Homo sapiens: one gene and its partners. The protein of the gene in region 3 purifies or fractionates together with the protein of the main gene of each other region. This does not show direct contact. Each region holds a gene or a part of one and is shown on either strand. Other genes may lie near its edges. The genes, in order: MECP2, POM121, KPNA4 and KIF22.

The links.
Region 1: the proteins of KPNA4 (region 3) and MECP2 purify together in Homo sapiens (affinity purification with mass spectrometry; 4 studies listed by BioGRID and IntAct, with this or other methods). This does not show direct contact.
Region 2: the proteins of KPNA4 (region 3) and POM121 purify together in Homo sapiens (affinity purification with mass spectrometry; 2 studies listed by BioGRID and IntAct, with this or other methods). This does not show direct contact.
Region 4: the proteins of KPNA4 (region 3) and KIF22 purify together in Homo sapiens (affinity purification with mass spectrometry; 4 studies listed by BioGRID and IntAct, with this or other methods). This does not show direct contact.

Annotation. Positions count from the first base shown.
Region 1 is NC_000023.11:154,094,715-154,101,793, forward strand, and holds the start of MECP2 (methyl-CpG-binding protein 2), read right to left. Parts: upstream 3,004-7,079; 5' UTR 2,952-3,003; coding exon 2,890-2,951; intron 2,256-2,889; exon of another isoform or gene 2,099-2,255; intron 2,068-2,098; exon of another isoform or gene 1-2,067. UniProt on the Homo sapiens protein: Chromosomal protein that binds to methylated DNA. It can bind specifically to a single methyl-CpG pair. It is not influenced by sequences flanking the methyl-CpGs.
Region 2 is NC_000007.14:72,935,084-72,942,121, reverse strand, and holds part of POM121 (nuclear envelope pore membrane protein POM 121), read right to left. Parts: intron 3,533-7,038; coding exon 3,441-3,532; intron 2,787-3,440; coding exon 2,713-2,786; intron 2,276-2,712; coding exon 2,154-2,275; intron 1,709-2,153; coding exon 1,606-1,708; intron 1,306-1,605; coding exon 1,129-1,305; coding exon of another isoform or gene 1,111-1,128; intron 286-1,110; coding exon 1-285. UniProt on the Homo sapiens protein: Essential component of the nuclear pore complex (NPC). The repeat-containing domain may be involved in anchoring components of the pore complex to the pore membrane. When overexpressed in cells induces the formation of cytoplasmic annulate lamellae (AL).
Region 3 is NC_000003.12:160,494,507-160,499,571, forward strand, and holds the end of KPNA4 (importin subunit alpha-3), read right to left. Parts: 3' UTR 501-5,065; downstream 1-500. UniProt on the Homo sapiens protein: Functions in nuclear protein import as an adapter protein for nuclear receptor KPNB1. Binds specifically and directly to substrates containing either a simple or bipartite NLS motif.
Region 4 is NC_000016.10:29,786,000-29,793,783, reverse strand, and holds the start of KIF22 (kinesin-like protein KIF22), read right to left. Parts: upstream 3,034-7,784; 5' UTR 3,025-3,033; coding exon 2,955-3,024; intron 2,817-2,954; exon of another isoform or gene 2,563-2,816; intron 1,319-2,562; exon of another isoform or gene 1,270-1,318; intron 1-1,269. UniProt on the Homo sapiens protein: Kinesin family member that is involved in spindle formation and the movements of chromosomes during mitosis and meiosis. Binds to microtubules and to DNA. Plays a role in congression of laterally attached chromosomes in NDC80-depleted cells.

The DNA of each region.
Region 1 (7,079 bases), on a different chromosome or scaffold from region 3:
AGCTGCTCTTAGCTAATTAAAAGATTTCTGCTGATATTAACCTTTATAAAAGATTTCAGGTTCCAGGACACGTCATTTATCATGCAGAGTCCCAAGCAGGTACATTAGCAATGGAAACCAGGCTCCAATAAGGAACTAACAATTTTATCTCTGTTGTTCTTTATTTTAGGTTAAAGAAATGAACTTCTCGTTTCATCTCCACATGGGAGGAATGTTCTGGAGGGGGTAACAGCCTATTAAACTCATCTAGCTTTTTTTTTTTTTTTTCAAACTCCACAGCTTGCCTCCCTACCCTACTAGACTAGATTGCACAGAGGCAGGGCAGGCACGGGAAACGACTCTGGTTGGAAATTACAAACATATACACACAGAATGCAAGCACCATAACCCTTTGAATACACAGTGGTTTGTGCCTTGCCCCAGACCTACCTAAGGATTTAAACAGCACAGAAGTCGGAGTTCGGCTGACTGCATGACACTCTCCTATCAATCGGGTGAAACAAAGACCCAGTACTCTAAGCTTAAAGCATTCCAGGCAAAATTTTAGTTAACAGGCAATAGGAAGGTGTGATAGGCCAGTGCTAACAAGAAAGCCACAGATGGGTTTCTTTGAGCTGTTAAGACACTGGAAAGGGCTGGTATGGAAGCCCAGTGGAGCCATTAGGACAATGGAAAAGGAGGTACCCCTCCACCAGGCACTTTGCAGAGAAAACTATACTCTGGAAGCTGCCTGCACTGTTGATAGGGCTAGACGTATGATAAACAGCTAACCGGAGGGGCACCCGAGGAGACAAACTGCCAACTATGAAGAACAAAGCAGAGACCTCAACTTGTCACGTCTCAAGCTCAGATGTACAAACTTTGGGATCGTCAAGTGAGGCTCGTGTGTATGCCTGGGGATATGACTGTATTCCAGTGATCAGCCACCTAGCTGACCTGCCACGAATGGGTGACCTGTGGTGACTTACTTTAATCAACTGTAGTACTTCTAGATTGATTGGGTGATTTAAGGTTCTGACATATTCAGGCAAGAAAATAAAAGCAAGTGTTTCCTAGACTTCCTCATTGGGATTTGAAATAGAAATCCTGAAAAGCCCATAAAAGCCTATTTCCCTAAATCCTTGGTGGAAATTCCCAAAAGATTAAAAAATCCAGACCCTGTCTTATTATAGGGACCCAGCAGATTTCAAAAGACTCAAGAGGTCAGCTTAATCTGGTTATTAACTGAAATTGCTGAGATACTGATGAACATTCCAGCCATGGAACCCAAAATTCTCTAGAGTAATAATTACCTATTAGTGCAATGTTACTACTGAGGCCGTATATGCTTCATTTTTACAGTATAACAAAATGTCTAAAACTTATGAGAGTCCTACAACGTCTAGGCCACTCAGTATCACATCCAAGTAGGTATGGTTCCTGGATCACCAACCAACCCCTGAATTCGATCCTGTTATCTCACAGTCTGGGGTACTGATCCCGCACAGCAGAGACACAACGTGTGAAAGGCTCGGCAGAGCCCATTCCTGTTCCTGGAAAAATAACCAGAAGCACACATCTGCCTGACCATGAGTCAGGAATATCAATTTTGTGGTGGAGCCCATTTCTGCTGTGACCAACCCACACCCGAACACACTCGCAACAGAAGCAACCGCCACAGAGCAATTCCAGAATGAGCTTTTTCCCCCTCGGGGTCCATACTTAGCAATGTCATAAACGGTCTCCCCTGCGACAGCAATCCTTTTACACTCTTCATAATGACCTTAAGTCTTTAGTGCAAAACCACAGAAACATTGCCACTGCCATATAAAAGTCATCTGAGTTTCAGTTTGGGTGATTCGGTCATGACCAAACTGAACAGAGGATAACCTTTCAGGCACAATTAACAGGAGCCACAGCGTCGCGATGAACTTGCCCCATCTGGTACCGGTGATCCCGAGCGCTCCAGGGCGATGAGAGCCCGTTACCTACTATGTCCCACTCCACTTATGTAACTGGAAGATCGCCGGCGAAGGGGAGGGTAGGATGGGAGGGTGCTCACATTCCGAGGCCACAGCACTCCAAAGAACCTCTGAGCACCCTGGGGACACGCTCGCACCTTAGAGCCTCTGGCGCCGAAGAGCCTCGGGTGCTGCTGGACGCACAGTCCCCTACCCACGGCTCCTGATGGGAACTATAACCACCTCTTTATGATGAGTTGTGGGACCCAGAACACAATGTCTAGTCCCTTTTGTGGATAATAATCCCCACCTACTTGTTCCTGCTAGATGGGGAAAGGAGCCGGTGGACCTACTCGCTCGCGGGGGGGTAGCGGGGGGCAGAAATTCATGGAATGGGCGAGAAGGAGGGGGAGGCAAAGCCCAGAGATGGGGGTGAGAGCTCAGGAGCCCTTGTGGCGCACTCTCCCGACGGGAGGCGAAGTGCGCACGCGCGCCGGTGGGGGGGCCGAGTAACGGGAGAGGGGGCGCGCGAGGGAGGGAGGGGGAGAGCGCGATCCAGGGAGAGGCCGGGGCCGCGGGCGCGCGACGGCGCCGCGGCCCAAAGCCCCGAGAAGGGCAGGAGCGCGCGCAGCCCCGACAGGCGAAGCCCCGGCGACAGGGGCGCCCGCGGGGCCGGGGGCCGGGATGCGCGTCGAGGGCGGGAGGAAGAGGGGCGTCAGGCGAAGGCGGCTCCAGGGAGGCCGCGCCGAGGACGGTCACCCGCGAGCAGGGGTGACGGGCCGAGGGGAGAGTCGCCACCGGCGGCGGCGGGAGGGGGAGGGTAGAGAGGAGGGACGCCATCCGCCAGCCGTGTCGTCCGACCCCGCGGGCCCCTCCCGCGCCACGTCCCGCCCCTGACCCCCGCCCCCCGGCAAGGGTCCCCGCCCGCGGCCACGGCGGTCCCACTCACAGTCTCTCCTCCTCGCCTCCTCCTCCTCCTCCGCTCGGCGCGGCGGCGGCGGCGGCGGCCATTTTCCGGACGGCTTTTACCACAGCCCTCTCTCCGAGAGGAGGGAGCGCGCGCGCCGCCGACGCCGGGACCCCGCACGGCCGACGTCGCGCCCCGCCCTCTTGGCCGGCCCGCGCGCTGCTGCACCTGCGCGCCCGCGCCCCGCCCTCGGCGCCGCTGCGAGCCCGCCCGTCATTGGCTGTGATGGCCGGGCTGGGACGGGGAGGACGGGGGAGGGGGGAGTCTCAGCGGCGATGCCGTCAATTGGCGAGATTTCCTGTCCATTTCGGCCAGGGAAAAGGGGGCGGACCCCTCCAGCTGTTGATTGGCTGCTTTCGGCCGTCGTTTGGGGAAAAGAGGCGGCTTGGGCGCGGAGGGACTGGTTTAGTGGGCGGAATTTGAATGTTAAGGATTAATGGACCCTTGCGGATGCTGGGGCAAGTGAAGGCCTAGGCTTGGGACGCCTGTTTGCGCTGCTCTGAGGGGCGATTGACCCTCTGTCCACAGATGCACCGAGTGCGCTGCAATAAGCGTTTCATTGCACCCACATTTTCTCAATATCACTATCTTCGGCAGAAGCAGCAAAGTTGCCCACCCTGGAGCCTGACGTTGCCCCAGCTGAGGGGCCTTGGTTTCAGAGGCCTACTCAATGCATTATTTCATCCGAGCCTGCCCAGTGCTCACACTCTCATAGAGGCGGGGAATAAACTGACAACAAATCGCAACCCTGGCTTTCGCAGAACTCTGGCGGGGGAAGAGAGTGCATGCCAAGGCCTCGTGACACCTGTCACTGTTGGATCAGATGGTTTGGTGGAGGTGTGAATAAGGGGCAATGTTAGCTCTGCCTGGAAGATATGATTTGGGAGCTGAGATCCAGCAATTTTTCACTTTCCTAGAAGAGTTGATTTGGAGCTGAGATCCAGCAATTGTGTTTTGGGAAAATAAGAGTATGAGAAAACTGTTAGCTAACCAGGTGTTCAGGACAGGAGTGTTTGTTAAGGGGACCTTACCCTGATGCCAGTCATTATCCAATCCATTCAATGATCCTTCTGTTAGTTCTATGCTTAGCAAGAAAACCTGATTCTGATTTGGCTGCTTGCCCCCATTCATTTATTGACTACCTGCTATGTGCCAGGCACTCTTCCAGGCTCTGGATGCACGGTACTGAACAGACAGCAAACTAACATTCTTGCCGGGAAGATTCATACTAGCATACAAATAAGTATAATATATCATTTCACATAGTGATAAGGGCTTTGAGAAAGATAAACTAAGTGAAGGGGGTGCTATTTAGATATCTGCTGGTTTTCACCCTCATTTTACTCCCTCATATGAATATCTGGGGAAAGAACATTCCAGGCAAGTTCAAAGGACATGAGGAGAGACTATGCCTGGCATGTTGGGGACTAACGAGGAAGTCAGTGTTGCTGGAGAGTGGTAGGGAATGTGATTGGAAAGGCAGCTGGGGCCACTATGAGAACTGGGAGTTCATTCTTTTTTGGGGGGGGTGGGGATGGGGTCTCATTCTGTCACCCAGGCTGCAGTGCAGTGGCGCAATCTTGGCTCACTGCAACGTCCACCCTGAGCTCAAGCGATCCTCCCTCCTCAGCGTCCTAAGTAGCTGGGACCACAGATGCGAACCACCACGCCTGGCTAAGTTTTTGTATTTTTGATAGAGATGGGAGTTCACCATGTTGCCCAGGCTGGTCTCAAACTCCTGAGTTCAAGTGATCCGCCCGCCTCGGACTCCCAAAGTGCTGGGACTACAGGCGTAAGCCACCGCACCCGGCCAGAACCGAGAGTTTATTCTAAGATGAGAAGCCCTCAGAGGATTTTGAGCCAGGAGCTGTCTGATCTATGTTGCAGGTGTAGAGTGGAGAACTGGACGTGATGAAACAAAACTACAGCACAAGGCTAGTTGCAAGGCCCTGGAACAGTCTAGGAGAAAGAGTTGATGGTAGCTTTAACTAGGGTGGCAGCAGTGCAGCTCTGAGAAGTTGTGAGATTCAAGATATGTTTTCAGAACTGAACAAAAGGATTGGATGTAGGGCATAGAGCAAGGGAAGAAACAAGGATGATTCCTGAGATTGGGGCCTGAGCAACTGGGGAAATAAGGGTGCTTTTCACCATAGTGGGGAGAACTACAGGAAAAGTACATTTTCAGAGGTGCAGATCAAGAGTTCTGCTTTGGCTGTATTAAGCTTGGGGTGCCCAGTGGTGTGAAAGTGGAGATGTTGAGTAAGCCATTGGGTGTGCGATGCTGAAGTATAGAGATGCGGCTAAAGCAGTCCAAAAGTCATCACGCTGAACATCCAATTCAAGAAGCCATAAAGAAATGACAGAGTAAGCCTGCAAAAGTAGAAGAAAGAAAAATAAGGATGAATAAAACTTAATGAAATAGAAACAAATGATGGAGAGGATTGAGAAAATTTTAAACCTGCTTCTTTGAAAAGCTGAAAAACAAAAGCCAACCCTCTAACAAGCTGGATATAAAGAGAAAAGAGAAAAGTAAATTATGTTACTCATGAAAAGGTTTTATTATGCACTGTGTGTCAGTAAATTTGAAAACATAAGCAAAAGGAATACATTCCTAGGAAAGTACAGCTTACCAAAACCGACTTTAGAAACAGAAAATCCCTGTAACCACAATGAAATTGACTATGTATTTAAAAAGCTACCCATCCTCCTACACACAGACACAGACACGCAGACACACACAGACACACACGCACACAGAGAGAGAGAGAGAGAGAGAGAGAGAAACAGACCAAGAGGGCTTTATGGATGACTTCTACCAAATCTTTAATGAGTAGGCAATTCCAATCATACACAGAAAAGAAATAAATGTCTCCAAACTTATTTTACTAGACTAATATATCTACTATGATGAGCCAAGAAAAGTATGACACAAGATGTGGAAATAAGTTTTAAAATTCTAGACAAATAAACTGAATCCTGCAGTATATGATCTATCACAACCGAGTTGAGTTTTATCCTAAGAATGCAAATATGGTTTAAAATTAGAAACCCAACCTTAACAAACTTAAGGGGAAAAACACTACATAATTATTTCAATAGATGCAGAAAAAGCATTTGATAAAATTCAACATCTACTTATGATTTTTTTTAAAAATCAGAGAACTGGAGTTCAAGACAAGCCTGGGCAACATAGCAAGAAGCAAGACCCCGTCTTTACAAAAAAAATTTAAAAATTAGACAGACGTGGTGGCACACACCTGTAGTCCCAGCTCCCTGGAAAGCTGAGGTGGAAGGATCACTTGAGCCCAGGAGTTTGAGGCTGCAGTGAGCTATGATTGCACATTGCACTCTAGCCTGGGCAACAAAGCAAGACCCTGTCTTTAAAAAAAAAAAAAAAAAAAAAAAGGTGACCAGGCACGACGGCTCACGCCTGTAATCTCAGCACTTTGGGAGGCCGAGGCAGGCGGATCACGAGATCAGGGGATTGAGATGATCCTGGCTAAAATGGTGAAACCCCATCTCTACTAAAAATACAAAAAAAAATTAGCCGGGCGTGGTGGCACGCACCTGTAGTCCCAGCTACTCTGGAGGCTGAGGCAGGAGAATCGCTTGAACCTGGGAGGTGGAGGTTGCAGTAAGCCGAGATCGTGCCATTGCACTACAGCCTGGGTGACAGAGCGAGACTCCATCTCGAAATAGATGGATGGATGGATGGATGGATGGATGGATGGATAGATAGATAGATAGATAGATAGATAGACAGACAGACAGACAGACAGATAGATAGATAGATAAAATAAAAGGTTAGGAGAGGGCAAAAAACCTGAATAGACATTTCTCAAAAGAAAACATTTAAATGACCAACAGGTATATGGGAAAAATCTCGCCAGGCACCTTGGCTCACACCTGTAATCCCAGCACTTTGGTAGGCCGAGGTGGGAAGATCACTTGAGTCCAGGAGTTCAAGGCCAGCCTGGTTAACATGGCAAGACCACTGTCTCTAAAAAAACAAAAAATTAGCCAGGCATGGTTGTGCACACTTGTCATCTCAGCTTCTTGGGAGGCTGGGGTGGGAGGATCACTTGAGCCCAGGAGTTTGAGGCTGCAATGAGCCAGGATCGTGCCATTGCACTTTGGCCTGGGTGACAGAGTGAGACCCTGTCTCGAAAAAA
Region 2 (7,038 bases), on a different chromosome or scaffold from region 3:
TCTGTGTTCCAAACAGGAAGCTTTGCTTGGGGGCGGGGGACGGGGCAGATGTGGCTTGGGGTTTGGTAGCCGTCTCTGCCTGAAGGGTTGGAGGTGCCTTGGTGTCAGTGGCTGGTACCATGGATGGAGCAGGGATCAGCCCCAGCAAAGTGGTCGGGGGTTTGGAGTCAAAGGAGGGGCTGGGGAGCAGCCCTGGCGGCCCTGACTGTGATAAACCCAGCGGGGGTAGGAGGCTGGGTGTCTTTGGAGGTGAGAGGGCCTCAGTGGTTGCTGCTCCAGCAGATTCTGGAAGAAGAATAGAAAATGTGAAATTGGAATAAACACTTCAAAGATGATGGTATTCAGTATTTCAGTGTCCTCCCCACGCCTACCACAGAGCCTGGGATCCAAGAGTCAGTCAATAAACTCAGCTAAGTCTACACTACAGGCCTGTACAGTAAATCAAGGAAGTGTTATTTCTACCTCACAGATCATCAGACAGAAGGGGATAAAATGGGGCCTAAATGGGGGCCTAATGTGTAGAGACTAAGACAGTCCAATTGTCTGAACTCTGAAGTTCACGTATGAATCTAGATATACTTTATTTGCCTACTAAGCTCACCTGCCAGGCGCTAAGAGCACACAACTATGAATGGGGAAGTCTCTGCCCTTGAGCAGGGAGGGTGCGTACGAACCCCAGGTTACCGTCTGATAAAGAGGTGTGCGCGCGCAGTGCCGTGAAGGCCTGGGCCGGGAACACCAGCAGCCCTCGAAGTGCTGGAGGGAAAGGAAGCAGTGCTGTTCTGGACCAGTGGTTCTGACAGGCAAGGATATCCTGACCACGCCACCACATTCACACTTCAGAGGTGCCGCACAGGGAAGATCATTCTCATCTGACAGATGAGGAAGGCGAGGCTCAGGGCAGCTACGAGCCAGGCTTCAGATCCTGAGCGTCGCAGCACCCCTTCTCTAACACTTCCTGATGCGGGCTCTGGCGCTGTTAAACGTGGGCCCGCTCCGGTGTGCTGAGCCAGGGTGCGTTCGGCCTGCAGAGCAATCTCCAGCGACTGACAGGCACGACGCCCTTATTCCAACTCAAGCCGGGGATGCTGCTCAGAAGGCTGGATCCACGGCCCCACTCCAGCTCACCTGGGCAGGGTGGCAGGCTCGGGGGAGTCTGCATCTTCTTCAAGCTCTCTAACAGTGGGTTGGTGCTTGGGGCCAGGAGGGAGGTGGGTGGGGAGGCAGGTGCAGCAGCAGGCAGGGTAAAGGTAAATGAAGGCTGAGTGATAGGTGGGGTCTCAGTGACAGAGTTCGAGGCAGCATCTAAGAAAGAAAGAAAGGTGAAGCAGTCCTGGCTTGTCTGGGACTTCTTTCCACATGCCTGTCGGAGAGCAGGCTCTCAGCACAGCTCATGGAGGAATGCCTGCCCTCAATTGCAGTGGTCCCTGCTGTCCAGTTCCCGTGAAGACCAACACGGATATCTCAGGTGAGAAAGACCACAAGAAAACATGGAACCCTACTTGGGATTTTCCCAGAGAAACCCATTTTTTCAAACACCAAAATAAAACCAAAGAAAACAGACACCTGAAACCTCTCCAGTGTGCAACAATCTGTGCTCCTTACCGCTCTTGTCCTCCAAGGCCTGGTTGAACCACTGTAATGAAGCCTTCTTCTCTAAGTCTAGGTCCTCGGCAGTGATCGAATAGCCAAGCTGGGGAGGTGGAGGCTACCAAAGTGAAAAAGAAGAAGTCAGGCCAATCAGAAAAAACGGGAAGGCTAGGCATGGTGGCTCACACCGGTAATCTCAGCACTTTGGGAGGCCAAGCCAGCTGGATCACTTGAGGTCAGGAGTTTGAGGCCGGCCTGGCCAACATGGTGAAACCCCATCTCTACTAAAAACACAAAAAATCAACCAGGCGTGGTAGCAAGCACCTGTAATCCCAGCTACTTGGGAGGCTGAGGCAGGAGAATTGCTTGAACTCAGGAGGCAGAGGTTACGGTTAGCCAAAATCGAGCCACTGCACTCCAGCCTGGGTGACAGAGGGATGTTGTCTCAAAAAACAAAAACAAAAATAAATTAGAAAAAAAATCAGAAGAAACTTGTCCTTAGCGTTCCTAATACTTAGGAGAGCTAAGCCGGGGAGGGCAGGAGTAGATGGACAAGACCATACCAAGGTCAGCTGTTCCCCTCGCCGAGAAGGCAGCAGCTGAACTTTCCGCTTACGCTGCCCAGAGCTGCCAGGTGTAGACTGAGAATTCGAGTTTTGTTTCTTCCTTGGGGTTGTATCTGCAGCTAAAGAAAGAAATCAAGACTCGTTTGCTTCCTTCCCTCTTCCAGAAATGGATGGTTGTGTCTACCCACTTCGCATTTCACATTGAGTTTTCAATGGGTATCTCTGAAAAGATTCAATCTTCTATGGTTTGGTTGCTTGGATGGTGTTTGCAAGATTAAGGCGCGCACACAAACCGCTTACTGTGCAGTAATTACTGGGATCACCCACAGGTGACTCAAACTGAGCTTACCTCTATCCAATCGTTAGTCCCTGTCTGTAGCCTTTCTCCCTCATCAGACTATAAACTTCTGAAGGAGAGGAAATCTCTCTCTTTGTATCTAACATGCCTTAGACATAGCAATGCTCAAGACCTTTTTTCAATAGGTATTAATCTCTACATCCTCCACAAACACCTCCACCACCAACAGCAGCCCCTCCTCCTGGCTCAGCAACCTACCCTTTTCTCCCTGGGACTCCCTGTCTGCTGCCAATGGAGTTGAAGAACTGGAATGATGACACAGCTCCTCTTCTCTGTCAGGAAAAAAGGAACAATTTAGTCTAGAAAGGCTTCTTGGCTGAAGTATTAAATAATTTCTCACACCCTCCTAACTACCAAGTGGCCAATGTCTAAAACAACCATCATTTAAGATCTCAGTATGCCAGGATAAAAAAAGTCAACAGGAAATTCCAACAGAATGAAGGGAGGCTGTTCACAGAGGCCATGAAGACAGCTTTTGTCTTAAAACAAGCACAAAACAATAATCTTCAAACCTTACTTACAACCTATCAAGTCCCTGGGAGTTCTAGACACAGATGTGATCCCTGAGGGAGTGGCATTCCAGCCAACTGCAAGCACCTAGGGGGTCAGCTCGAGTCAAGAACCTGAAGGCGACTGCCCGCTGACTTGACTCTCTCTGCTCTCCACTCTGCATGGCCTCTGTGCTTGCACCCGATCCCTCATGCTGGAGTGGGAGGCGACAGCCAGAGGCCACTGGAGTCAGTATCCAAGACTGTAGGGATGACAGCACTTCGGGTGGGTACTGCATTGTACCTCTCAGGGACTTAAGTTTCTTTGATTCTCCAAGTCACAGCAGCACAAAGCCTAAGAGCCAGGTTCGTTTCCCACCTTTCCTCACCCCCGCCTGTCCACGCAGCAAATGAAAACTGCAGGAGAATGCCAAGTACCTTATTTTCTTTGCTGGCCTCTCCGGTGTCTGGGAGCGGGAGGAGGCTGGGCTAGAGAAGGGTGATGAACTGGGGCCATTTCTCTTCCAGAGCTAAAAATCAAGAGGGACATGACTGAGCCTGCTGATAACTTAGCATCTGACCCTCAACACGACAAAGTCTCTTTTCAAGTGACTAAAAAAACATTCTTTATGGTTAAATGGTTAGTCATGCCTGTAATCCCAGCATGCTGGGAGGCCAAGGTGGGAGGATCGCTTGAGCCCAGGAATTTGAGCCCAGCCTGGGTAACATAGCGAGACCCCTGTCTCTACAAAAAAACTGAAAAATCAGTTGGGTGTGGTGGTTTGCATCTGTGGTCCCAACTACTCAGGATGCTGCAGTGAGCTGAGATTGCCCCACTGCACTCCAGCCTGGGTGACAGAGTGAGACCCTGTCTCAAAAAAAAAAAAAGAAAAGAAAATGAAAAAAATTTGTTTGTGAAGAAAGACCCCTGAAAAGAAAGTCAACTGCCAGTATTAATTATGAAAGCAAAAGAAGAAAAGTCTATAAAAGTAATGGAATGCGAATAAAGGTAGAAGGGATGGACACACTTTTGCATATATTAGGTGGAACGTTAGCCTCAGTAATGAAGAGCCAGGACACATTCAAACCTGTGCCAGACTGTCTACGGAGAGGATAGAAGTAAATTAAAGAAGATAACCCAGTAAACTAATTTAGTCTTGCTTCTATTAAATTTTCTATTTTAATTTACTAACTTCATTTTAAAAATATGCTGTCGTAACGTTTATGACTTTTGCAACAACGATGGCATTTATCATCATGTGATGATTATCCATACATCTGCCTCTTCCACCAGGTGAGTTCTTGACAGCAAAGACGGTGTTTTCATCTCTGCTTCCTCCACAGACCAGCAGCAAAGTAGATGGCACAGAGCGGACACTGCAAATAGTCTCGTAAGTGCTGAGCCTAATTACAAAGCCACTAAACTGTCACCTCAGACCGTCTTTCCTACTTGAAAAGCTGCTAGTGATTTCTTACCCAGTACCAGCTACATCATATAAGTACAAACAGGAAGCCAGCAATGCTTAATAAGAGTTCAAAAAGGGAAAAGAGGAAGCTTCAGACAAGTGGTAAGCAGCAGAACAGTTCAGTGAGGCCACCATCAGGAAGCCGGGCCCAGGAGGAGCTTGAGAAGACTGCTCACGGCAATAACAGTTGAAGTTACGCTCAAACAGCAAGAAAGGCCAGAGCACAATGGTTTAAAAAACATGGGATTACAGGCATATAAAAGAGCAGAATACAAAAATTCATCAAAGGGATCCAAGGATTGAATATATAAGCGGCATTTTCAATCACTTCAGATCCCTGACACTACCTCACTGGTTCTCAAAGGACGGCTCAGTCACCTGTGGAACTTTTTTTTTTTTTGAGACGGAGCCTTGCTCTGTTACCAGGCTGGAGTGCAGTGGCGCGATCTCAGCTCACTGCAACCTCCGCCTCCCTGGTTCAAGCGATTCTCCTGCCTCAGCCTCCCGAGTAGCTGGGACTACAGGAACATGCCACCACACCCAGCTAATTTTTGTATCTTTAGTAGAGACAGGGTTTCACCATGTTGGCCAGGATGGTCTTGATCTCTTGACCTCGTGATCTGCCTGCCTTGGCCTCCAAAAGTGCTGGGATTACAGGCGTGAGCCACCACACCTAGCCACCTGTGGAACTTTAAAAGCACATAGATGGCCGAGTGCGGTGGCTCACACCTGTAATCCTAGCACTTTCAGAACTGAGGCAGGAGAACTGCTTGAGCCCAGGAGTTTCGGACCAGCCTGGGCAACATAGCAAGACCTTACCTGTAGTTAAAGTAATAAAATTAAAACAATAAAAACCATAAACCTTGCATTTTTCTTCACAATGTGCTCCAGACACTGAGGGATACACATCACTGAGCAAGCAAGGGTCAGAAATGCCAAAGGGGCCAGACGAGGTGGCTCACACCTGTAATCCTAGCACTTCAGGAGGCTGAGGCAGGAGGATCACCTGAGGTCAGGAATTCCAGACCAGCATGGCCAACATGGTGAAACCTCATCTCTTCTAGAAATACAAAAACAAGCTGGGCACGGTGGCTGACGCCTGTAATCCCACCACTTTGGGAGGCCAAGGTGGGCGGATCACGAGGTCAGGAGATTGAGACCATCCTGGCTAACATGGTGAAACCCCGTCTCTACTAAAAATACAAAAAATTAGCCGGGTGTGGTGGCAGGTGCCTGTAGTCCCAGCTACTTGGGAGTCTGAGGCAGGAGAATGGCTGGGAGACAGAGCAAGACTCCGTCTCAAAAAAAAAAAGGAATACAAAAATTAGCCAGGTGTGGTGGTGCATGCCTGTAATCCCAACACTTTGGGAGGCCAAGGTGGGAGGATCACTTGAGCCCAAGAGTTTTGAGACCAGCCTAGGTAACATAGTGAAGTCTCATCTCTACCAAGAAAAAATAAAGAAAAAACAGAAATGCCAAAGGAGACTGTAATGATTAGCTAGGACTGGAAGACAACTGAACAACTGGTTTAACAATTAGGGGAAAAAAGTATTACTCCTCTACTTCATTGACTGTACATACACACTCATTTCAGATCTAACAAGACAAGGATGTTTATTATCATGTCTATTCAACTTAAAGTCCTAGCCAAGTGCAGCAAGACATAAACAGAATAAGATTGCAGAGGAAAGGAAAAACTCATTATCATAGACCTGAGTGTATGTACTAAAATCCTAAAGAACATACAGATTTAGCAAACTTTCTGAATACAAAATCAGTTGTATTTCTACACACCAGCACAGCCAATCACATTTTGAAGGCACTATTTAGAATAGCATATATGAAGGCACTATTTAGAATAGCATATACCTAGGGCCAGGCGCCGTGGCTCACGCCTGTAATCTCAGCACTTTGGGAGGCAGAGGCAGGTGGATCACCTGAGGTCAGGAGTTTGAGATCAGCCTGGCCAACAAGGTGAAACCCTGTCTCTACTAAAACTACAAAAATTCGCCAGGTGTGGTGGCACGTGCCTGTAATCTCAGCTACTCGGAAGTCTGAGGCTGGAGAATCACTTGAACCCAGCAGGTGGAGGCTGCAGTGAGCCGAGATTGTAAATCTAATAAAAAAGAAGTAAAACCTCTACAGAGAAGAAATAGAGATGATGTAAATAAATGAAGGAGGCAGGACATGGTGGCTCACGCCTACAATCCCAGCACTCAGGGAGGCCAAGGTGGGAAGATTGCTTGAGCTCAGGAGTTTGAGACCAGCCTAGGCAACATAGTGAGACTGTGTCTCTATTATAAGTTTTTAAAAATTAGCTAGGTGTGGTGATGCATGCCTGTGGTCCCAGCTACTCAAGAGGCTGAGGCAGGAGAATCGCTTGAGCCTGGGAGTTCAAGGCAGTAGTGAGCTATGATCATGTCACTGCACTCCAGCCTGGGCCACAGAGCAAGACCCCTTGTCTCAAAAGTTAAATAAATAAATAACGACATTCCATGTTCATAGATTAGAAGTAAACAAGGTCAATATTGTAACAATGTTAATTCCATCCAAAGTAATCAGTAGATGAA
Region 3 (5,065 bases):
GAAACTGAAGCACATAGGGATAAAATAACTTCACATACATAAATAAACCAAAGCATTCTAATAATTTCATACTATAGCTGACTGACCAAAACAGCAATCACTTAACTTTGTGGTTTGGATATTTCCTTGTAAAATATCTTATTATAAGTTATTTCAATAAATCATCCATACAGTATTTCCAAAATATAAACTGTATCAATAGTGTTAGACAATATTAGGTTACCTCTGCTTCATAATATATATAACTGGTATCTGAAAACCACACAAGGATCCATTTCAATACCCTTATGGATGTCAGATATCCAGACCAGACACTGGGCAAAATATCAAAAGTGAGGAAAAGGAAATAAGGAAATGGGCATTCATCTGGCAAGCTATGAAGTATCTTCCCTTTCTATCGAAGGCTTTCTAAAACTCAGATGCAATGAGACAAATTTAAAAACTGTAGATTGAAGGCTTTTAGAGGTAGTCACTACAATCAGTTCATCTGAGAAATTGCATCATTATCACAAGCATTTATTGAGTACCCATAGAACTCATGGTACCTTCACGGTGTTTACAGAACTTTGCTTATATGCCGACCTTGCCCTTAAGGAGCTTACAATCTAGTGGAAAGAAAGACGGAGAAACTCAGATGTGATAGAGCAATGAGTGAACAGATACTATAGACTGAAAAATAACCATAAATGTAAAACACATACTGAAAAATGAGGGTTAATGGGGATGGCAAGGATGATAGGTAGGCCTGGATATACTCCTGACTTCTTGAAGGAGTAAATATCTAGAATATTCAAGGACGTAAAGTGCGGTTGAGAAAGCCAGGATGCAAACAAACATTTCCTATCTGCTGTGTATTTTCTTGCTCCCTGCAGCTGAGAATTGCAAAAAGAAAACAGGGATAGAGATAATGGGTAAAAACTTTTTAGTATTCTTTTAGTACTTCTGTTTCTGAATTAGACCGAACAGTCACCATGTAGGTAACTTAGCTATCCTAGATCATCCTAAACTGGTTAAAAGGAAGATTTTAAAAACTAGCTTGTCTATATGAGTTCTATAAACATATGTAATTTTACCTTAACTAAAAGGTTAGGATGACTAGGACTGCCACTATGCTAAAGACCACTCAACTGAATATAATACTGACATGGCAGAAGTGCGAGTTTTATCAGTGATACACATTGTGTACTGCATTGGGGGCTTACTAGATGTGTGGCGGAATATACCCATTTATGAAGGCAGCACATCGGCAAGTAAAAATGTAAGTGAAGGTAGGAAATACCTAGAATACATGATGTTTTATGCAGCTGAACAGGACAACCCTGAAAAGACAAGAATTATGGTAATACCAAAGTGACTAAGGTTGTCTTGATTCCCCGCCCCCACCACAATTATGAATCAAAAGATGGAGTCTTTTTTTTTTTTTTTTTAAGGTAAATACCCTCTTTAGCTGAGTCCAAGACTTTGGATATTAGATTACTGTACCTAAAAAGAGTAAAATGGTGGCCAGGCGGTGGCTCACGCCTGCAATCCCAGCACTTTGGGAGGCCAAGGAGGGTGGATCATCTGAGGTCAGGAGTTCGAGACCAGCCTGGCCAACGTGGTGAAACCCCATCTCTACTAAAAATACAAAAATTAGCCGGGCGTGGTGGTGCACGCTTGTGGTCCCAGCTACTCAGGAGGCTGAGGCAGGAGAATCGCTTGAACCTAGGAGGTGGAGGTTGCAGTGAGCCAAGATGGCACCACTGCATTCCTGCCTGGGCAACAAGAAAGAGTAAAATGGTAACTATGCACAAAGGATGGGGGAAAGGTGGCTCACAGGGCTTAAACATCAGAGGAATGGAGAGGACAGGACAGTGAGGGAATTATCTGGAAGGTAGGTAACTGGATTGAGAACCACAAAAAGCATGTAGATTTAAGCAGATTACGAGTCATTTTAAACAGCTGTTTCAAAGTAAGAGTAAAAACAGGCTGGAGAAAATCTTGGGTAATATTAGAGTAACATAGTCTAGGATAGGAATCCATCAGTTATGGAGATCAGAGGTAAGATATAGTCAGGGAAATTAGGATTCATGCTTGAAGAGTAATAGAAAAACCTAAGTGAAACAGGTTATTGGAATTTTCTTTATGAAGAATAAAAGTGGAAGAACTGATAGTCTGGAAAGGTGAAGTAATCTGGAGTAGGCAGCTACAAAAGGTATAAAATTTGTGGAGAAGGCAAAAATTGGGGCAGAAAATATAAATAACAAGGGAGTACTGCAGTCCTCTGGTGGGAGGTAGATCATAAAGAATCTGTAGAACCATTTACTTTTCCTCACAGTCAACTGCTCTTACACCCAGAGCAGTAGCTGTCAAGTCAATTTTATTGAAAATACACTGGACTTGGACATCCTGAGTCAAACTGCCATCACCTAAAGGGCCTGGATTTAAAAGGAATTTTCAAGATTATTGTTAACTTCTGGGTTAAGTGTTTAGGGAAAAAAATGTTAAATCTACTTTTCTTATACATGATTGGTGTGCTTAGTTTTTTATCAATTTGACACTACAGTCCAAATTTGCTTCTGATCACACTAGAATAGTTTTACCAATGTTCATTATTTTTCAACTTCCTTTATTAAGAATTAAGGCTGGTTGGGCGCAGTGGCTCACGCCTGTAATCCCAGCACTTTGGGAAGCCGAGGTGGGCAGATCATTTGCGGTCAGGATTCCAATACCAGCCTGGCCAATACGGTGAAACCCCATTTCTACTAAAAATACAAAAATTAGCCAGGCGTGGTAGCGTACTCCTGTAATCCCAGCTACTCAGGAGGCTGAGGCAGAATTGCTTGAACCCTTGAGGCAGAGGTTGCAGTGAGCCGAGATTGCGCCACTACACTCCAGCCTGGGCCACAGAGCGAGACTGTGTCTCAAAAAAATAAAAATAGAAGACTGCACTAATGCCACCAACGTGCATATTGATTTGAAGGCATCTTGCAGCAACTTTTAAAAATTATTGTACATATATATTTAAAAGCATACTTTATTAATGTGCTTATTAAAAAGTTTAGGGAAAACTTTAAGTGTTCAAAATGTCAAGTTTGTTAGGCATCAGTTTGTTAGTGTTTGGGAGTATTGCCTCAGATATCTGGGCAAAATTTTTTCCTCCCATAATATTAAATTATTGGCTGACAGTTAATGAATTTTGCCAATAAGTAAAATAATCAAGAAGTTACAAAAAGGATAAGATACTCAGCTATCTTGGCCTTCAAAACGCCAATGGTGGATTCTAACTGAAATTTTATATATAAATGGTAGATAATCCACCAAACCCGAGGAGTTAACAATTAAAGTTGGCCTATTTATAGTTCACTTTAATAGCTACAATGGAAGATTCAATTTTGGAAACTCAAAAAGGTCAACTAATTTCAAAACTCTTAGGCAAGCTTCTATAACAATGTTACCCATTCCTTAGTAAACAAAAAAAATATCCAAAAAGCTACATTCACATTTTTTTGCATTGGTTCACAAATTTAAATGAATTTAGATTACCTTTAGAATAGTAATTAGAAGCCCTGGGCAGTATGGGAGTTGAGATGTGGGCTTTATTTGGCCCTTAGTAGCTGTGTGACCTTGGGCAAGTCACCTCAACAACTCATCATCTAAAGGGAAGGGTTGGGACAGACTGTAATTCATGGACTCTTATGAATCCCCTAAAACTGTATGAAAAACTACCATGTATATACACTTTTTGGGGAAGCTGGTCCAGTTTTCATTAGGTTCTCAGAGGCAACCTTGATCCCCAAATAAGCTTGCTATGATAACTATATAAGGCTATCACTTGTAAATTGTTCCAGTTCTAAATAGTTGAGTCCTTGTCATAGGAAGAACTCTTAAGATGGCTCCCAAGATTCCCTGGTATACATACTCCATATAACCCCCTCCCTTGACTGTGAACAGGATCTTTGAATATGATGCGTATCACCCCTGTGATTGGACTACAATGCAGGGCAAAGGTGAAGGGATTTTGCAGGGGTAATGAAGGTACCTCATCAGTTTGGCTTTGGGTTAATCAAAAGGGAGATCACCCTGGTGGGTAGGTGGCCTGATCTAATCAGGTGAGACCTTTAAAAAAGCGCTTAAGGCCTTCCCTGAGATCAGAGATTCTCTTGCTGGCCTTGAAGAAGTTCCCATGATTTCTTCAGTTGCTAGGCAATGGATTTTGCCATATGTGCATAAAAGAGGACCCCCTAGCTTCAGATAAGACTGCAGCTCTGGCTGACACCTTTATTGCAGCCTTGTGAGACCCTGAGCAGAAAACCTAACTACACTCTTGACCTACAGAAATTGTGAAATAATGTATGTTGTGTTTTAAGACACTAAATTTATGGTAATTATACCAAAATTACACAGCAGTTATTCTCTAAATTCAAAATTTAGCTTAATCTCTGTAACTTTTTCCTTGAGGAAACTGAGGCAATGGAGAATCCAAAAAGGGTGCCCCCATAAATTACTGTTACAATAAACCCAGTCATTTTACAATGCAGTTATACCTTTAAAGAAACAAACAACTCCTCACCCTATGAAGTGCTGCTGAGGTAAGCCTAAACTAAATGATACACTCCCTCTCCCCAAAATTATTCTAGATCCATTTTTAATGATTCATAGATAGCTCTAATTATAGAAATGCTCCAGGTTTGGTCCAGAGCAATGTGGACCAATGGAAAGTATTATTTCCACCATAACACACAATTACTGAAGTCTTTGAAAATTACAAAGGAAATATATTTAAAGATAGATTTTAGACTAGGGCGTCTCACACACCCCTAATATAACATTCTTATTTTTACAGCACTTGAGGTGGTCTCAATGTTCAAAAAGACAGTTTAAGACATGAAACGTTAAGAACGTTTAGCTTATTAGGCATATTATTCTATGCCCCCATCCCCATCAGAAATAAGCCTGTGTTAAAAATGAAACAATTTCCTAGATCACTGGAGAATTAAAAAAAAAAAAAAAGTGTTTAACCAGGTAACCGTGATGAACTGTCAACTGTACTGAATCAATTTCAGAGACAGAAAAGCCCTTCCCA
Region 4 (7,784 bases), on a different chromosome or scaffold from region 3:
ACCAGCATTTCTCAACTTCAGCACTACTGACATTTCGGGCTGGCTAATTCCGTTGTGGGGCTGTCCTGTGCATTTAGACTGTTAGCATATGCTTACTAGATGCCAGTAGCATTCTCCACCCTCACCCTCAAGTTGTAACAACTAAAAATCTCTCCAGACATCTCCAAATGTCCTGTGAGGGACAAAGTTGCCCCGAGCTGAGACCACTCAGATTCATTTCATAGGCAGGTCACCCGCCCTCTTGGCTTCAGTAACATCTTACAGCTGATAAGTCCTATTGCACGTTCTGCACAAGAGCTCTCAACTGCAGCCCACGTTCTGAACGGCTGCCCTGACGGCTCCTTTTTTTTGAGACAGAATCTCACTGTCGCCAGGCTGGAGTGCAGTGGCGCTCTTGGCTCACTGCAATCTCCGCCTCCCGGTTCAAGCGATTCTCCTGCCTCAGCCTCCCGAATAGCTGGGACTACAGGTGCACGCCACCACGCCCAGCTAATTTTTGATTAATTTTAGAGACAGGGTTTCACCATGTTGGCCAAGATGGTCTCGATCTCTTGACCTCGTGATCCACCCACCTTGGTCTCCCAAAATGCTGGGATTACAGGCGTGAGCCCAGCCGACGGCTCCTCTTAAACTCCACCTGTCCTAAACTGAACCCTCCTTCCCCATCTCTCTGCAGCCTCCTCCTTTGATCTCTGATGTAAATGAATGGCACCAACCCCAAAAGTGGGAGTCTTTAACTCCAACGTCTCTTACCTCCCACATCAGTTCATCATTAACATCTGTCAAGTCTATCTCTTTAAATCTCTCTTGAACAAGTCCACTTCTCTCCACTCCCACTGCACTACCTCTGCCCAAGGTCATGGTCTTTACAGCCTTCCTTGCTGGTGGTAGCAAGGTGTCTCCCTGCCCTCTAGTCATTCCCTCTGTTTCCTTCCTTGCAGTGTAAGTTACCAGTCATGATGAATTTCCTTCACTTCCTACAAAACTCCAAGTTCTCTTGCACCTTTGGATTTTTGTCCACGTTAATCTCTCTCCCTAGAATATCTGCATTGCTCCCCACCCCACCCTGGAGTGACTAAGGTAAACACATTTTAACTCCTCTTAAAAAACAAAACCAAAAACCCTTTCCTGGTAGACACTAAGGCTTTATCAGGTGCAACCACAGCTCATGTTAGCCCCTCCATAAGCATTTGTCACACCCCACTATTGCGTGTTTGTCACTTTCTCCACCTGACTGCCAACTGTGAGAACAAGTTTTATCCTGCTCACCTTTCTAACCCCAACACCTGGCGCAGAGTAGGCCCTCAAGAAGTATTTGCTGAAAAAAATTAAGATTTAGTGAATAAACTACTAATCACTGGCTTGTTCATTTCCATCATGAAAATGGCTCACGGCCATTCCTGCCCCAGGGCTCACAGTCCAGGGTAGGAGGGAAGAGGGGAGGGCCACATGTAAACAATTATTTACTGCACAAGAGTCTAGCCCTTTCATGATAAAAGCAACCTTGAGCTTGGACCAGGCTAGCAATTATTAATTTTCCCTTCTTTCACAATTCCTAAATTTCATTCACTCTTCTCCCTTTTATTGATGAGGAAATTGAGCTAAGAGAGCATCTTACATCATAAATAAGAAAACACTTGCTGTTCTTGTCTTCTTAGTCAAGGCCTGGCAAACTCCTATCCAACCTTTGAAACCCATCTCAAGTATCATTCACTCCCTTAATGAAGTCCTCCCAGAATACTCAAGGGCTTACTTCAGATTCCACACCCTCAGTTTATACACATCTCTCATTGTGTTTCGTATTACATCTACGTATGTGACACTCTATTGAAACAGACTGTAAATTCCTCGAGGAAGGGACATTATTCATTCAGGCATTTTCATATCTACCATGCACCGGACACAGTGCATCTTCGAAGGGTAAGGGGAGACTGTGCTCAGCCAGCAGGGATAACATGTACTTGGGCATAATGGTTAAGAGCAGAGGTTCTACACTCAGACTCCTTGAGAGCGAATTCAAGCCCCAATATTTACTAGTTGTGTTAACTCTGAACAAACTAACCTCAGTTTCCTGTGTAAAACAAAGACAGTAATAGTAACAACCTGATAGCATTGTGTGGACAATAAATGGTTCACCACCATAAAATGCCTACAACTGTGCCTGGCACATAGCAAGAGCTCTACATGTGTTAGGCATTCTCCTAAATGTCTGTTTCCCCACGAGGCTAACGAGGGCTCCAGTGAATTACTATGGCGCTCACCATCATCACTAACGAGGATTAAGTCTCCGGGTTAGAGAGGCACATGTAAACAAATACTCACATACAAGATTTTGGGTGTCCTAACAGCCTTTCCAACCCTAAAATAGCATTCACTTCCATGCTAGAGTGAAAGGAAATTTTAGTCTTTTATTTCGTTTTCCTGTAATCGCAGAGCATCTTACGCTGCCAACTCAAACCCAGCAGCAGCCGGGTCTGTTCCTCAGCCCGTCCTCTTGCATCTCTCAGGGATGTCTCTGCACCCAAACACCATGTCCCACACAGAACCCTTCCCAATACACGCCTCCGGCTCCCTTCTTCTCGTCCTCGTGGCTAGAGCGTCCGCCACTCTTCTCTTGCTTATTCAGGTGATCTCCAGGGATGAGGCCATGACCCCCGTTTCACAGACGAAGAAACCGAAGCTCACAAAGAAAAAGTGCGCGGGGTTCAAGCCAAGAGCCTGGACCGGAGACCCGAGTCTACTGACCCAAGGGGAGAGCAGGAAACAGGGAGAAGGCAGGAGCCAGGCGGGGCGACCGGCTCGCGACCCCACACTCTCACCGTCCCCCTCTCCCCGCCCCTGCGCCATGGCCGCCTCTCCGCGACAACCCGCAGAGCCTGGACCACACTCCGACACATAACTCCCACTAAACTCCAGACGTCGGTACCCGCCTTGCCCAGGCCGGGCTCAAGTACCTGAGATCGCCGCCGCTGAAGCTGCCGCCATCTCGCGTCGCCTCTGCTGCGTCGAGCCGCCCGCGGCCATTCCACTCCCTCCTTGGGCCCGCCTCTCCCATTCGAATTCCCCGGTGCCCCGCCCCCTCTCCCAGGTTCCACCAATCAAGACTACGCGCCGCCGGAAGCTGCTGCGTGTGGGTCGCCACTATCCCGCCTTCCAGCGCTCGCCTCCGGGTCCCCAAGAAAAGGTTCCCCTGGTCAGGACGCATGCGCGCGCGTGGGCCGCGCAGCCGTTGATGTCTGGAAGCGCGCTGCGATACAAACCCCTACGCAGGGATGTTGGCGACGGTGGCCGCTGGGGGAGCTGCTCAGCGCCGCCCGGCACTGGGCTCCCTTTCCCTTTACTTTCTGCAGTTTCTTGCCTCCGTGGGTGGTTGGCGCGTCTGCGGAGCCAGGGTCGTTGTGTGGATCGTGGGACTGCAGCCCCAGCCAAAGGGCTATCACGTCTGGTCGGTTCTGTAGATCTGGGCCCCAGGGGCTGGACTCTGGGCAGTCACGTTGCAGTCGCTGCCTGCTGGGCCCAAGGCCACTGTAGGTCCCCTCGCGTCCGTGTCAGCCCAGGAGAGCAGCTTGGATGTTCCTGTCTTTATAACTTGGCACTCAGCACGTCGGCGAAGCGTGGAAAACGCTTAGTCTGTGATTCAGTCCCACTCACCCACGGTTCCGGTTCCCAGTCCTTAAGAGTACAGCAGTCCGTTGAGTAGCTCTCTGTCCTTTCTGAAGGGTTGGCTAGGGACGGTCATTCCACTTTTGAGCACCAGGTAGGTAGGGCCCAGGTTTAGACATTATGTTCCACCCTGTTGAACAACAAAACAAAACACGGGCCGGGCGCGGTGGCTCAGTCCTGTAATCCCAGCACTTTGGGAGGCTGAGGCGGGAGGCTCACCTGAGGTGAGGAGCTCGAGACCAGCCTGGCCAACATGGCGAAACCCCGTCTCTACTAAAAACACAAAAATTAGCCGGGGATGGTGGCACGCCTGTAGTCCTAGCTACTCGGGAGGCTGAGGCAGGAGAATCGCTTGAACCCGGGAGGTGTAGGTTGCAATGAGCCGAGATGGTGCCACCGCACTCCAGCCACGGCGCCAGAGTGAGACTCCGTCTCAAAACAAAAAACACAAATCTTAGATCAGTGTTTCTGAAACGTTTTGCCTTGGGATCCCACTACAGTTTTTAAAAATGAGGCCTCCAAAGATGTTTTGTGTATATGAGGGTTTTTGTTTTTTTGTTTTTGAGACGGGGTTTCACTTCCATCTCCCAGGCTAGAGTGCAGTGGCTCAATCTCGGTTCACTCCAACCTCTGCCTCTTGGGTTCAAGTGATTCTCCTGCCTCAGCCTCCCGAGTAGCTGGGATTACAGGTGTGCACCACCACGCTCAGCTAATTTTTGTATTTTTATGGAGACAGGGTTTCACCATGTTGGCCAGGCTGGTCTCAAACTCCTGACCTCAAGTGATCCACCCGCCTTGGCCTCCCAAAGTGCTGGGATTACAGGTGTGAACCACCAGGCCTGGCCGTATATACTGTGTGTGAAGTGAAACTAAATTAAAGTTGACATTAATGAATTTAAAAATTACAGTAAAAAACCCATAGACATAAAAAGGACATCTAAGTAGTGGTTGCCAGGGGATGGTGAGGGGCTGAGGAGCTGGCACTACAGCAATAGATATAACGAGTTTCTTTTGGGGGTGATGGAAATATTAAATATTTTGGAATGAAGTAGTGATGATGGCTGCGTAACGTAATAAACATACTAAAAACCAGAGAGGTGTGCACTTTTTTTTTTTGAGACATAGTCTCTCTCTGTTGCTCAGGCTGGAGTGCAGTGGCGCAATCTCAGCTCACCGTAACCTCCGCCTCCTGGGTTCAAGCAATTCTCCTGCCTCAGCCTCCCGAGTAGCTGGGATTACAGGCATGCACCACCGTGCATGGCTGATTTTGTGTTTTTAGTAGAGACGGGGTTTCTCCATGTTGGTCAGGCTGGTCTTGAACTCATGACCTCAGGTGATCCATCCGCCTCGGCCTCCCAAAGTGCTGGGATTACAGACGTGAGCTACCAAGCCCTGCCTAGACCTCCATCTCTTTTTTTTTTTGAGACGGAGTCTCGCTCTGTGGCCCAGGCCGGAGTGCAGTGGCGCCATCTCGGCTCACTGCAAGCTCCACCTCCCGGGTTCACGCCACTCTTCTGCCTCAGCCTCCCGAGTAGCTGGGACTACAGGCACCTGCCACCACGCCCGGCTAATTTTTTGTATTTTTAGTAGAGACGGGGTTTCACCGTGTTAGCCAGGATGGTCTTGATATCCTGACCTCGTGATCCACCCGCCTCGGCCTCCCAAAGTGCTGGGATTACAGGCGTGAGCCACTGTGCCTGGCCTACCTCCATCTCTTAAAAAATAAAATTAGCCAGGCATGGTGGCACACACCTATATTCCCAGCTACTTGGGAGGCTGAGGTGGGAGGATTGCTTAAGCCCAGGAGTTTGAGGCTGCAGTGAGCCGTGATGGTGCCACTGCACTCTGGCTTCAGTGACAGAGGGAGACCTTGTCTCAAAGACACACAAAAAAACTAGATTCTCATATCTGCTTCTGCATTCATGCTGTTGTGATGTCACATATAATATAGTATTTTGAATACTCCACTATATACTTGAGAAACAATGCAAGAGAAGTCAATTGGTATCTTAGTTTTATTATGAAAATAGTTTTGAACTTGTAGACCCACTGAAAGTGTCTCAGGGACTCCCAGAAGTCTCTGGACCATACTTTGAGAACATCTGACATTGGCAATTGGCAGTTTGGTCTTCCTTGCCTGTCAGAAAAGGCTGTTCAGTTTTCACATTTGTTGTCAACTCCAGATATTTGGTAAGAAACCTGCCAGAAATAGTGAAAAGAGCATAGATCAAGGAGATAGGGCTTCTATGTTTGAATAAACCATTTAGGTACAGGGCCTTGGTGCCAGGCTGCCCAGACCAGAGATTTAGCCTCTTTGTGCCTCCATTTCCTCAGATATTAAAAGGGAATAATGGTTGAAATACCTCCTAGGGTTGTTTTAAGGATCTGCATCTGGCTGGTAGAAATTAGGGTGGTTTGGCCAGGCGTGGTGGCTCATGCCTGTAATCTCAACACTTTGGGAGGCTGAGGCGGGCAGATCACCTGAAGTCAGGAGTTTGACACTAGCCTGGCCAACATGGGGAAACCCTGTCTCTACTAAAGACACAAAAATTACCCCGGCGTGGTGGCACACACCTGTAATCCCAGCTATTCAGGAGGCTGAGGCAGGAGAATCACTTGAACACAGGAGTTGGAGGTTGCAGTGAGCTGAGATTGCACCACTGCACTCCAGCCTGAGGGACAGAGCAAGACTCCATCTGAAAGAAAAAAAATTAGCCAGATGTGGTGGCATGTGCCTATAGTCCCAGCTACTTGGGAGACTGAGGCAGGAGGATCGCTTGAACCCAGGAAGTGGAGGTTGCAGTGAGCTGAGGTCATGCCTGTGCACTCCTGCTGGGATGACAGAGAAAGAAACAATTGATTTTTAAAAAATAACTTCCAGGCCGGGTGCAGTGGCTCACGCCTGTAATCTCAGCACTTTGGGAGGCTGAGGCAGGCAGATCATGAGGTCAGGAGATCGAGGCCATCCTGACTAACACGGTGAAACCCCGTCTCTACTAAAAATACAAAAAACTAGCTGGGCGTGGTGGCGGGTGCCTGTAGTTCCAGCTACTCGGAAGGCTGAGGCAGGAGAATGGCGTTAACTCGGGAGGCAGAGCTTGCAGTGAGCCGAGATGGCACCACTGCACTCCAGCCTGGGTGACAGTTGGAGACTCCTCAAAAAAAGGCTGCTCACGATGGCTCACGCCTGTAATCCCAGCACTTTAGGAGGCCGAGATGGGCGGATCACAAGGTCAGGAGATTGAGACCATCCTGGCTAACACGGTGAAACCCCGTCTCTACTAAAAATACAAAAAATTAGCCAGGTGTGGGGCGGGCGCCTGTAGTCCCAGCTACTCGGGAGGCTGAGGCAGAAGGATGGCGTGAACCCAGGAGGCGGAGCTTGCAGTGAGCCGAGATGGCGCCACTGCACTCCAGCCTGGGCGACAGAGTGAGACTCTGTCTCAAAAAAAAAAAAAAAAAAAAAAATTCCAAACTATGTCTTTAAAAGAAGCAAAGGAGGTCAGATGTAGTGGCTCATTCCTGTAATCCCAGCACTTTGGGAGGCTAAGGTGGGAGGATAGCTTGGGTCTAGGAGTCCAAGACCAGTCTGGGCAACCTAGTGAGACCCTTCTCTACAAAACATTTTAAAATTAGCCAAGTGTGGTGGCGCATGCCTGTACTCCCAGCTACTTGGGAAGTTGAGGTGGGAGGATCACTTGAGCCCAGGAGGCTAGGTTGTGGTGAGCGGAGATCATGCCGCTATTGTATTCCAGCCTGGGCAAAAGTAAAACATAGAGTTTGTGCCATAAAAGATAATTAGTGGGTCTAGGCCTGGCGCGGTGGCTCATGCCTGTAATCCCAGCACTTTGGGAGGCCGAGGCGGGCAGATCACGAGGTCAGGAGATCGAGACCATCCTGGCTAACACGGTGAAACCCCGTCTCTACTAAAAATACAACAAATTAGCCAGGCGTGGTGGCGGACGCCTGTAGTCCCAGCTACTCGGGAGGCTGAGACAGGAGAATGGCGTGAACCTGGGAGGCGGAGCTTGCAGTGATGCACTCCAGCCTGGGTGACAGAACGAGACTCCGTCTCAAAAAATAATAATAATAAAATAAAATAATAATAATAATAATTAGTG